Homo sapiens: one gene and its partners. The gene in region 2 interacts genetically with the main gene of each other region. Each region holds a gene or a part of one and is shown on either strand. Other genes may lie near its edges.

Region 1 (3,554 bases), about 18 Mb from region 2:
TTTCAGTAGCTCCAAAGCACTTCAATTCCATCAATTCAAAGACAACCTCATCATCCCTCAAAAACTAGGTTCTTTCTCCTGCATTCCCTGACCATCCGCCATCTGCCCTGTCACCAAAGCTAGAAACCTTGGAATGATTATCTTCTTTTCTCTCACTCCCCGCCAGTAACTTGACATATATTTATCAAGCACCTACTATGTGCCAGCCTCCCTTCTAGACACTGGGGATGTGGCCGTGAGTATGCACACAAGGTGTCTGCTCCCAAAAAGTTGGCATCCTAGTGAAAAAGTGAGAGGGACACAATCATATATACAAACCAGAAAATCTCGGCCAGGCGTGGTGGCTCACGCCTGTAATCCCAGCACTTTGGGAGGTCGAGGCGGGTGGATCACGAGGTCAAGAGATCGAGACCACCCTGGCCAACATGGTGAAAACCCCGTCTCTACTAAAAATACAAAAAATTAGCCGGATGTGGTGGCGGGCGCCTGTAGTCCCAGCTACTCGGGAGGCTGAGGCAGGGAGAATCACTTGAACCCGGGAGGTGGAGGTTGCAGTGAGCCGAGATTGCACCACTGCACTCCAGCCTGGGCGACAAGAGTGAGACTCTGTCTCAAACAAACAAACAAAACCAAACCAGAAAATCTCAAGTGACGGTGGTCCAGGGACGATATGGTGATGTAACAATACTGGAAGTGAGGTCAGGACAGTCTAAATGTAGAGGGAAGGGCTAATTTAGAGGTCAGGGAAGGACTGGCATGAGCCACTTGCATTAAAACCTTGGGCATTCCAAGCAGAGGCAACAGCTAGACACAGGTCCTGAGGTGAGACTGAGCTTGGTCTGTAAGACGCAAAACGGCTGCAGGGCTGAAGGGTAACTGAGGACAGTGGTGGAGATGTGATCTTGCTCTGCTATTCCTTCTGTAAGGTTTGTGCCGCATCTTCTCTTCCTGGACTACAGCAACATTTCCAGAATGGCCTCCCTGCTTTGAGTCTGTCTGTCTCTGATCTTCTACACGTGGCCTCCTGAGTCAACTTCCAAATCTGCTCCTGTCACCTCTCTGCTTAGAGGCCTTCAGCTTAACCAGGCCCTCCAATCTCTGAGCCTGCTCACTGCCCAACATCAGCTCAAACCACGAAGGTGGCCCTGAATAGGCCGTGCAGTTGCCAACACCCCTTCCCTTCCAGGTGCTGGGCCACCTGCCTGGAGAACACACTTCTGTGTCTTTCTCCAGCTTCAATGCCACCTTCTCCATGCAGCTGTCTCCAGCTCCCCGGAGGCCACTGTGCCCCCGTGCTTCTCTGCGCACACCTCCATTTCACATGTCATTCCGTGACTTAAGGATCTGTTTTGCACATTTGTCTTCCTCAAGTGACTGAGACTCTGAAGGGCAGGGAGCATGTCTTACTCATTTTTTGTATTCACAATACCTGGCACAGGCCCTGGTACCAAGTGGACACTCAAACCTCGACCAAAATGTGGCTGGGCTGTATGGTAGTGACAAGACAACCAGTGTGGCAAAAGGATCCTGAAGCCAGATGGCCTGGGTTCCAACGCTGACTCTGCTAGACTCTGCTACTTACTAGCCACGTGAACCCAGGCAAGTTGGACACTATCTCCTACTTCAAAAGGGTCATGAGATTAAAATCAGGTAATCCAGTGAAGTGCCTGGAATAGGGGCAGATGTGTAGTACTAGCTCAATGTCTGAGGTATCATTATTATTAAATGAGGCAAGAAATGGATTCCAGTTTCTTGGATCCCAAGCTCTGACTCCAGCTTCTGGCCCTCAACCACAGCCCCAGACATGCAGTCTTGGCCTCTCTCTCACGGCACAGAGCCCAGCTGCCCTGATGCTGCCACCCCAGCTGTGTACCTGTATCTGGCAGGTACTGGAATTCCATGGGCTCACTGAGCTCCCGGTCGGAAGGCCGCCGCAGCTGCATGGAGACACGCACAGGAGCCTGCAGGCTGGGGTCTGCGTAGGGAGGGGTCCGGAACACAATGGCCACTTGTCGGTGCACATCAGCTTGCGAAAAGGAGCCTCGGGCCTCCCAGCCTGGTCCCGTGAAATACACCTCAATGTCCTCTGCAGGAGATGCGGTGGCAGTGTGGGTCAGTGTGTCTAACCCTCCATGGTCTCCCCCTCAACTTCTGATGCTTGTCTTCTGATACATCACCCTTCGGCCCACCTGAGGCCCCCGAGGCACAGGAGGAAGTATCCAAAGCCAGTTACCTGACACTCCACTTCTCTGCTCAGCTTCACCCCTTGCTCCCAAGAGCCCACCCCTGCCTCCTGATGTATACCTTTCTGCACCTTGTCACACAGTAGGAAGATCTCATCCCCACCGAGGCAGCTGCCAGAGTTTCGGTTCACTCGGCAGATCTTGAGCTCGGCAGTGTTGGGGGCACCTGAGGCAGTGAAAACAAGGGAGGATGACCTGAGCCACGAGAGGTCCCCAGGGTGGCCTGCAGGAGATGCAACTTCCCTGCCCAGCCCAGAGTCAAGGTTGCCCAGAGCTTGCCACCTACACCTTTGTAGCCAAAGTCAGACCTTCTTATTAGCTCCTCACCCCAACCGATTCAACAAGTATTTGCCTACTGTGCACTCAACACTGATCTAAGCAAGAATACGACCACACACAAAACCCAAACCTCTCTGCTCTCCCGGAGCTTATAGTCCAGTGGGTGCCAATCTGATCACACTCTTTCTCCACCTGACCAAAGCAATCTTTAAGGCCAGTCCATACCCACCTTGGCAATGAGCCCTTCCCTCCTGACCCCCAGTTTATCCTGGTTTCCCATCCTTGGGGCTCCAGATTCGTTTTATTTCCATTCATCCTGCTGGTTACTTAACTAAAGACTGCAGCTGATCAGTCAGCCCAATTCATCTGTGGGCTTCCATCACTGAATCATCATTCTCGAACACTATCTTGTTCCTGGGAGTTCATTTCCTAGAGTCATTATCGCAGTTGTGGGCACACCACCTTCTCATCACACAATACTGAAAATGCCCATCTCCCATCAGACTCTCTGCTAGACTTCCTGCCAGGCCAGAGCTACACCTCAAGGACAGCTCTGGGTCTTCTTTGCCCTCTCTCCCCAGCCAACAAAGAGCTGGGCAGAGAAGAGTAGACAAATACGCAAGATGATTGAATGAAGCCAGAGCGCCTCTTGCAGGCCACACTCACCCCAACCCCCTTCCTCCTATTCAGGCCCACCCTCTCCCCTTCCTGCGTCTCCCTCGCTACTCACGATTGTCAAAGATGGGATGAGAAAGGACAGGCGGCAGGCGGAGGGGCCTGCCTGATGGGTCCCGCACTGTCACCTGGAAGCAGAGCCGCACAGCATTCAGGTCGTAGTCCCCACGCTGCTCTTCTATAGGAACTGCCAAGAAAACAGGCGATCAGGAGAGCAGGGGAAGTGGGGATATAGGTGCTATCAGTGGGGGCAGGGAGCTCTGCGCTGGGAGGGCCGCTGGTGCGTGTGTGAAACACAAGTCCTAGAGGAGGCAGAACCCAGCACTGACTCCACTGTGGCCTGAATGTCATGTCCCC
Region 2 (3,646 bases):
GCTCCCAGCACTGAACCCCAGTCATTCTTAATGAAGGTGACTGCATATATCTTGTTCCATTAATGCATGTTGTATTTTTAAAATAGAGCCGATCCCAGTTTCTGATCTCCGTGTTGCCCTCACGGGTGTGAGGAAGGCTGCTCTCTCCTGGAGCAATGGCAATGGCACTGCCTCCTGCCGGGTTCTTCTTGAAAGCATTGGAAGCCATGAGGAGTTGACTCAAGACTCAAGACTTCAGGTCAATATCTCGGGCCTGAAGCCAGGGGTTCAATACAACATCAACCCGTATCTTCTACAATCAAATAAGACAAAGGGAGACCCCTTGGGCACAGAAGGTGGCTTGGGTGAGTTACAAAGGGTACCTTCCGTCTCCCTTACTGGTTCTTACTTTCAGTAACTAAATGTTCTAAAAAATAAATTGCTCTTCCATGTGTATGGAGATTTAGAATTTATAAAGGGCTTTTCCTCCACATTTTAGTTTGATCCCCCACCTGCATGAGGAAGGAAGGAAACGTGTTCTGATTTTACAGGGGAACACATTGGGGCTGAGAACAGCAATAGGAATTGAAACTTTTTAGAGTCTGGCACCCAGGAAAGTTAGAGGCCCCTTTAGCTTTCTATCTAACAGCTGTGTCAACCCAAGTTGGGCCTTCAGAGGAACTTATCACGTCTGCTGGTTGATGTTGGCGTTGTCATTTGCAGGTTTCATAGCATTTGCAGAGGATCCCCAGGATAACTCCATGAGGAGGACAGGCACTTAATCTGCATTTTATACTTAAGAAAACAGAGCTACAGAGTGGGTGTCAGGATCCTTGCTTGCGAGTGACAGAAACCAGACTTTGGATAGCTCAGACAGAAGGAACAATTTATTGGCTCATGTGGATTTTCCTGCTAGCGGGAGGCCTTAGAGAAAGAGATGAGGCAATTCTCATCCCTCCCTCTTGCTTCTTTCTGTTCATCAGCTTCATTCTCAGAGCAGCTCCCTCTGCACACTTAAGGAGCCCAGCTGCTCCTGTTTCACACCCTGCAGCTGCCCCACCAGCCAGCTGCCCCACCAACCAGGGTCTGGTCCAGGGAAACGTGTCTTGAGTGGGGTCTGATTAGCAAAGTCTGCTTCACAGAGCTGTCCCTGGAAATCCATGCTGGGACAGGAGAAGATAACAACCCAAAGAAGGGAGAATGACCTGAAATAAGCAGAGTTTGAAAGAGAAGCACCAGATATCTGTGGTGCTACTGGAATAACAGTACAAATGGAGATGGAGCTATCAGGCCTTTTTATGGGGCTGCCTCTCTCTCTGGAGGAGGAAGGGAGCAGATATTGATGGAGCACCAACTGTGGCCACTGTCTGATGGCCATCTGATGGGGTTGGGGCTCCGAAGGAAAATGGGGGATGTGTCCCTCTTGTGGTTGATGTCTTTTTGTCTCCTGTGCTTGAAACAGATGCCAGCAATACAGAGAGAAGCCGGGCAGGGAGCCCCACCGCCCCTGTGCATGATGAGTCCCTCGTGGGACCTGTGGACCCATCCTCCGGCCAGCAGTCCCGAGACACGGAAGTCCTGCTTGTCGGGTTAGAGCCTGGCACCCGATACAATGCCACCGTTTATTCCCAAGCAGCGAATGGCACAGAAGGACAGCCCCAGGCCATAGAGTTCAGGACAAGTAGGTTGAACTTTGTAAAATGGTGGCAGCCAGAGTTTCCTAGCACAATGTTCTGTCTCCTGTGATTCTGATTCTGAGTGATTTCTTGCATAACAGCTAGTTTTGATGTCAGAGGGAGCTTCCTGGAGGAGATTTTGGACAGAGCAGATCTGCTCAGTTTCTTCTTAACTCCATGGGCAGTGCACATCTCTCATTAAGTGAAATCAAATACATGGAGCAGCCCCTGTGTGCGGGCACCAGGCACTGCCTCACGCCATCTTTCACAGCTTTGCGTGGTGGCTGATGAGACAAACTGGCATCATACTTTCCTCTTAAAAACAAATAATCATTGCTTGTTTTTCCTTTGCTTTGAGTTAAGAAAGTTATGAAAGTGAGTTTCATTTTTTCACCCGCCTTGTAATTCATACCGATCTTTCTGTTGAAATGCTTGTTGACATGCACATTGCTGCTTCCTCGCTATAATTTATCAGCACTTTCACTCTGTAAGTTCACCAATATTTGGAGGCTTTGGTGAAAAGAGCGGGAGGTGAACACATTTGGGAATACTTAGAGGTAGTTACTGGCCAGGCTGTGTTACTTGTACAGGGCTAGAAGTTTTGGCAAGACATTGGTGAGAAGCCATTCTGTAAGGAATGACAGTTTTTCCTGGTATCCATGTTGAAGGAGGGTCCATTTGTGTCCTTCCTTCCCTTTGTACTTGTTTTGCTAATGTGGGAGTGGGTGGGGAGGATGCGGCCGTAGGACAGGCTGCCTGACCTCATGGGGCCTGCAGTGACCTGGCAGGAGTGGCAGGTGGGAGGCTCTCGGGTGAGGAGGGCTTGGATTCCAGAGGGTGGGTTAGTTGGAGGAGGAGGAAGGGGCTCCTATGTGGGTGCGGTTGGCAGTGGTGGGGTGTCCTGCACATGGTAAGCTTGCGTGAGAGAGTGAAAGGGGCTGAAATCTGGTCTGTGTGCCCTGCGTCAAGCCATGCACCCAGGGCTGGGTCCAGCCAGGGGAAGGTCCCTTTGACTGATTTGCTAAAAGGACTTGTAGATTTGTGTGGGCCTGGGGTCCCTGCTTTTTAAAGCAGTTTGAGCAAAAGCAAAGTAGTAGTGATTACATCTCAGGCTCTTGGTGGTGTGAATTCACACACATCCTGCTTTGGGTTGAACTGTCTTCATGCTTGGTAAATAATCATTATAGTAGCCTTTCCCTCTCTATAAGGGGCGAGTGTGTGTGTATAGATAAGTCTTAGTCAGTTTGGGCTGCTGTAACAAATGGCCATGCACTAGATGGCGTAAACAATGAACATTTATTTCTCAGGGTTCTGGAGGCTGGAAGTCTGAGACTGGGGTGCAGCATGCCTGGGCTCCGGGTGAAACACCCTCTTCCTCTTCCAGGTTGCAGACTCCCTGGGTCTTCACGTGGTTGAAGGGGTGAGGGCGTGGTTTCTCTCCAGCCTTTTTGATAAGGGCACTAATACCATTCAGGAGGGAGGTAATTCATGATCTAATTACCTCCCAAAAGCCCCGCCTCCTAAAAGCATCACATCAGGGGTTACAATTTCAACATAGGAATTTTATGGGGACAGAAACATTCAGTCTGTTGCAACACACACACACACACACACACACACACACACACACACACACACAGATAAACACACATTTCCACCCACCCCAGAGCACCCTGCACTTTTCAAGTGACTAGTTAGGTGGGGCAGGGTTAAGGAAACCATCAGAGGACATTGTTGAGGCACCCAAGACACGACAGAAAGCCACCTCTAGGGCTGAAGGGCTAGAGGAGGACAGGGTGTTTCTGGAGCCCAGTGAGAGCTGGGGCAGTGGTGGACACAGCTGTGTCAGGACAGGAGGCCCAGAGCAGGAGGTGATGGAGGAAGGCACTGACTCCTTTCTCCTGTGGCCCTTCAGGGGCCTGCCCATTGGCTCATAGTGGAACCCGGTCACAGCCCATGTGGCAAGACCCCCCATGATGCCTTGCACAAGG
Region 3 (3,646 bases), about 19 Mb from region 2:
AGAAGTTCCTACATCGTAGGGTTGTGGGTTTTAACACTGGTAAATTTTGCAACCCTATGCCCAGTGCTTAATAAATGTTTGATAAACATAAAAAGCTGCTATCATCATCATCTGTGACAAGGGCCCCTCTGGAAGCCAGTTACTAGCTGGTTCCAGCAGCTCCAACTCCCAGGGCAGCCCCTCCACTCTGAGAACATTGGACAGGGCTGGCCATGCCCCAACTTATGAGCTCCTCCAAGGAGGCTGGGACCTTGGAGGGGGTTCCAGGTGACGGGACACAGCCCTTGTCCTCATGGGGGCACAGCCAGCAGCATGCCCAAGGCGCCAGGGTACTCACCCTCGGCCCAGGCAGCCCAATCTCCGGTTGACATCCCTCTGCAGCAACCCCTCCAGCAGGGAGCGTAGTTCAGGGGAGAAGGAGTCGGGCAGCTCCACGGCCTTTAGAGAGGAGTGGGACATTAGCAGGGGCTTAGGAAGAGCCCTTGACCCCATCCCAGCTCAGGGGAGAGAGGGGTCCAGGCCCCCGCAGAGGGACAGATGGGGCACAGCATCCTAGCTCGCCCAGCAGTCATGCTCCAACAGCACGGGGAGGGCGAGAGCCTATGGGGCAGGAGGTCTGTCTCAGAGGCCAGAGTAGGGGTCAGTGGCCCAGATCTCTGCTGGCTGGTGGGAAGCAAGAGTCATGGCCTGGCACCCACAGGAGCTCCCCCCAGCCCCCTGCGGCCCTGCACTGAGACCTGCACCCACCATCGTCAGCGTCATGCGGTCGATCTCATGCTTGTCTTTGGTCTTGTGCTGCCGGAAGGGGCTGTGCCTGGGCAAGAAAGGCCAAAAACCAATGTCAAAGGACAGGAATGGGGAAAGGGAGGCAGGCAGCATGGATGAGCTGTGGCCAAAGTCAGGGACGGTGCCAACCCTACCACCAAGGCAGCTATGGGCTCCCCTCCTTTGGCATCCCACCTGGATTGGGGAGGAACTTCTCTTAGCCCCAACCCACCTGCCCACCTGGGATGGGCCACTCACCCCCGCAGCAACTTGAAGAGCATGCACCCCAGAGAGAACCAGTCGGCACTGCTGTCGTAGGCCACGCCCTTCTGCAGGACCTCCGGAGCCATGTACCCGTGGGTGCCCCTGTGGGAGCAAGGGGGCCATAAGCGGGAGTGGCAAGGGGTGGGGAGGGAGAGGGTGGGGGGCACTCACACGCTGGCATGGGGCTTCTTCTTGGAGAAGTCACAGGCCAGGCCCAGGTCCGAGATCCGCACGTGGCCATGCTCGTCCAGAAGGATGTTGGCTGGCTGTGAAGGAAGCCCAGTGAGCTGCCTGGGGCAGCTCAGGATGGGGCCCAGCCAGGCAAGATGCCAGCTGGGTCACTGCTTCACTGGAGAGGACGATGGGTACCCAAAGAAAGGGCAAAGGTGGGGGTCCTCTCTCCTGTCCCCAGCTACAACCTGGACCCAGAGAGTGGCTCGGTGGGAAGGGCAGGGGCGGAGATGGGAAGATACGGGGCGGCCATGTCCCAGGAGCCCCACTCCTCTGGGCCTGGTGGCCGGGATGTCGAGAGGAAGGAGAGGACAGCCACGGAGGTCCAGCCTGGGGACAGCAGGGGCGCTCACCTTCAGGTCCCGGTAGACCACGAAGCGGTTGTGCATGTGCTCCAGGCCCAGGATGATCTCGGCCGCATAGAAGCGCATGTCAGCCTCTGAGAAGACCCCGTGCTGGGAGAGGTGGTAGTGCAGGTCCCCACCTGAGGGAGGCAGTCCCACAGGCAGCACTCAGTGTCTTGCCCCAGCCTCCCGTGCCTGGGCCCGGCCCACCCTAGGGCCCGGCCAGCACTCACCGTTCATGAGGTCCAGGATGAAGCTGAGCTTGTCTGGCGTGTGGAACGCGTATGACATGCAGACAATGAATGGGCAGTCCTAGGAGGGGAGAGGAGGGGAGGGGGCGGGCAGTTAGCAGGGGCGCCCGGGGTTCCAGAGCCTCAGCGGCAGCCCGGCCCACCCAGCTCACCCCAGTGCTGACGAGCGAGAGCATGATGCGCTCGTTCAGGGCCAGGGTCTCCCCCTGCTTCATCTTGATGCGCTTTTTGTCCAGGCACTTCATGGCGTACCTACGGGGCAGAGGTCGGCAGTCAACACCCACCCTCAGAGCAGGGGCCCAGGGCTGCCTCAGGGGGCGCTTGAGGGAAAGACTAGACCCAGGACCAGCGTGTGACACAAATCAGAGACAGGGAGGGCTGGGGCCAGAGGAGCCTGCGGGGGTAACAGCACGGCAAGACAGGAGTGCATGGAGCAGCAGGTGGCCCTGTGTGGAACCCGGCCTGTCAGGGTCCCCCAGGAGCCCGGCTCCCCGAGGTATCCCACCGCGCCGAGCAGGGTGCTCACATCTTGCCTGTGTCAGCCTTCCGGCACCCATAGACCTCGCCAAAGCCCCCGCGCCCAATGATGCGATGCACGCTGAAGTCATTCATGGTCAGCTGAGGGGCAGCGACAGCTGCGGTCACCACAGGCTGCCTCTGCCCAGCCCTGGGGCAGAGGCACCTGGGCAGCAGGGGCTGGCCCCATGCCAGGGTCCCCATACCCATGTCCTGGCCATCCTTGCCACATATTTACCTGCTCCGGCCTCCCCATGCTGGGATCCCGGCCCTGACCCCCATAGCCACGGCCCTGGGGGCTAAAGGACAGACATCCCCTGACCTCCCCCTCCCAGCCAAGCCACAGGCCCAGCTCCCGGGAGAGGAGCAGCAGGGTGCGTGGCTTTCCATGCCCCACCCAAGCCCACTCACGTGGATGTTGAGCTCCACATTCTTCCACTGGCAAAACCGTGTGAACTTATCGCTGGAAAAGAAGAATCAGGGCTCAGGGGCCACTCAGAATGTGGGAAGGATGATGCTGTCGTGAGCCTCCCCACCCAGCCGCCACTCCCTGGGGTCCCGTGAGGGTAGGTGTGGAAACATCACGAGCGTTAATGTCCTCTTCCAGGAAGGATATGTTGAGGGCCTGCCCGCCCACAGCACCAGTCAGGGCTGCTTGGGTGCCCAGCATGGCCCTCGGCCACCTGGCCGTGGCTTCCTGCTGGAATCAGATCCGCACAGAAAGGAGGTCTTCCAGTCTAACCCAGACTTCCTGCTACCATATCCTTGACAAGTACGTCTCCTGTCCCTGCTTGCATACCCCCAGTGACACAGAGCTCACTCCATGGCTGGGCAGCAGTGACCCTAAAACAGCTGCTCCCTAAAGCTGGCTGAAATCTACCTACAATTCCCACCCACCGCGCCAACTCTGGCTGTGAGGGTCACGGGGGCCATGCGCTCTACTGGGCCTACCCCTACCAGGACTCTGATGCTTCTCAGTCCAGGTGGGCCAGCAAGGTGCTATACAGCCCACGGGAGAGAAAGAGGCACAGGTGGCACAGCTCTCCTAGCTCCCTGGAGCTAGGAGACTGCCTGGGATGGGCTTTGAGCTGCCTGGTGCTGAGGAGGGCAGGGTGGGAGATGACCTGCAGCCTGTCTGACTTCTCAGGAGTCCTTGCAAGGGGGCCGCTGACGGGCCAGCCACCTGCCTGCTCAGGGCCTAATGAAGGCTGGCTTCTGCCCTCCACGCCAGCCATACCCCTTCTGAGAGCGGCCCCTCCCTCCCCCTTCCTCTCC

The links.
Region 1: changes in PTPRJ (region 2) and RELA together harm fitness more than expected from each alone (negative genetic interaction), as found in Homo sapiens cells (one large-scale study listed by BioGRID).
Region 3: changes in PTPRJ (region 2) and GRK2 together harm fitness more than expected from each alone (negative genetic interaction), as found in Homo sapiens cells (one large-scale study listed by BioGRID).

What each region holds. Positions count from the first base shown.
Region 1 is NC_000011.10:65,656,414-65,659,967, forward strand, and holds part of RELA (transcription factor p65), read right to left. Parts: intron 3,385-3,554; coding exon 3,253-3,384; intron 2,410-3,252; coding exon 2,305-2,409; intron 2,087-2,304; coding exon 1,874-2,086; intron 1-1,873. UniProt on the Homo sapiens protein: NF-kappa-B is a pleiotropic transcription factor present in almost all cell types and is the endpoint of a series of signal transduction events that are initiated by a vast array of stimuli related to many biological processes such as inflammation, immunity, differentiation, cell growth, tumorigenesis and apoptosis.
Region 2 is NC_000011.10:48,123,527-48,127,172, forward strand, and holds part of PTPRJ (receptor-type tyrosine-protein phosphatase eta isoform 1 precursor), read left to right. Parts: intron 1-86; coding exon 87-344; intron 345-1,441; coding exon 1,442-1,660; intron 1,661-3,646. UniProt on the Homo sapiens protein: Tyrosine phosphatase which dephosphorylates or contributes to the dephosphorylation of CTNND1, FLT3, PDGFRB, MET, KDR, LYN, SRC, MAPK1, MAPK3, EGFR, TJP1, OCLN, PIK3R1 and PIK3R2. Plays a role in cell adhesion, migration, proliferation and differentiation.
Region 3 is NC_000011.10:67,279,920-67,283,565, reverse strand, and holds part of GRK2 (beta-adrenergic receptor kinase 1), read right to left. Parts: intron 2,835-3,646; coding exon 2,783-2,834; intron 2,474-2,782; coding exon 2,382-2,473; intron 2,108-2,381; coding exon 2,008-2,107; intron 1,917-2,007; coding exon 1,838-1,916; intron 1,745-1,837; coding exon 1,614-1,744; intron 1,296-1,613; coding exon 1,201-1,295; intron 1,132-1,200; coding exon 1,024-1,131; intron 815-1,023; coding exon 748-814; intron 439-747; coding exon 338-438; intron 1-337. UniProt on the Homo sapiens protein: Specifically phosphorylates the agonist-occupied form of the beta-adrenergic and closely related receptors, probably inducing a desensitization of them. Key regulator of LPAR1 signaling.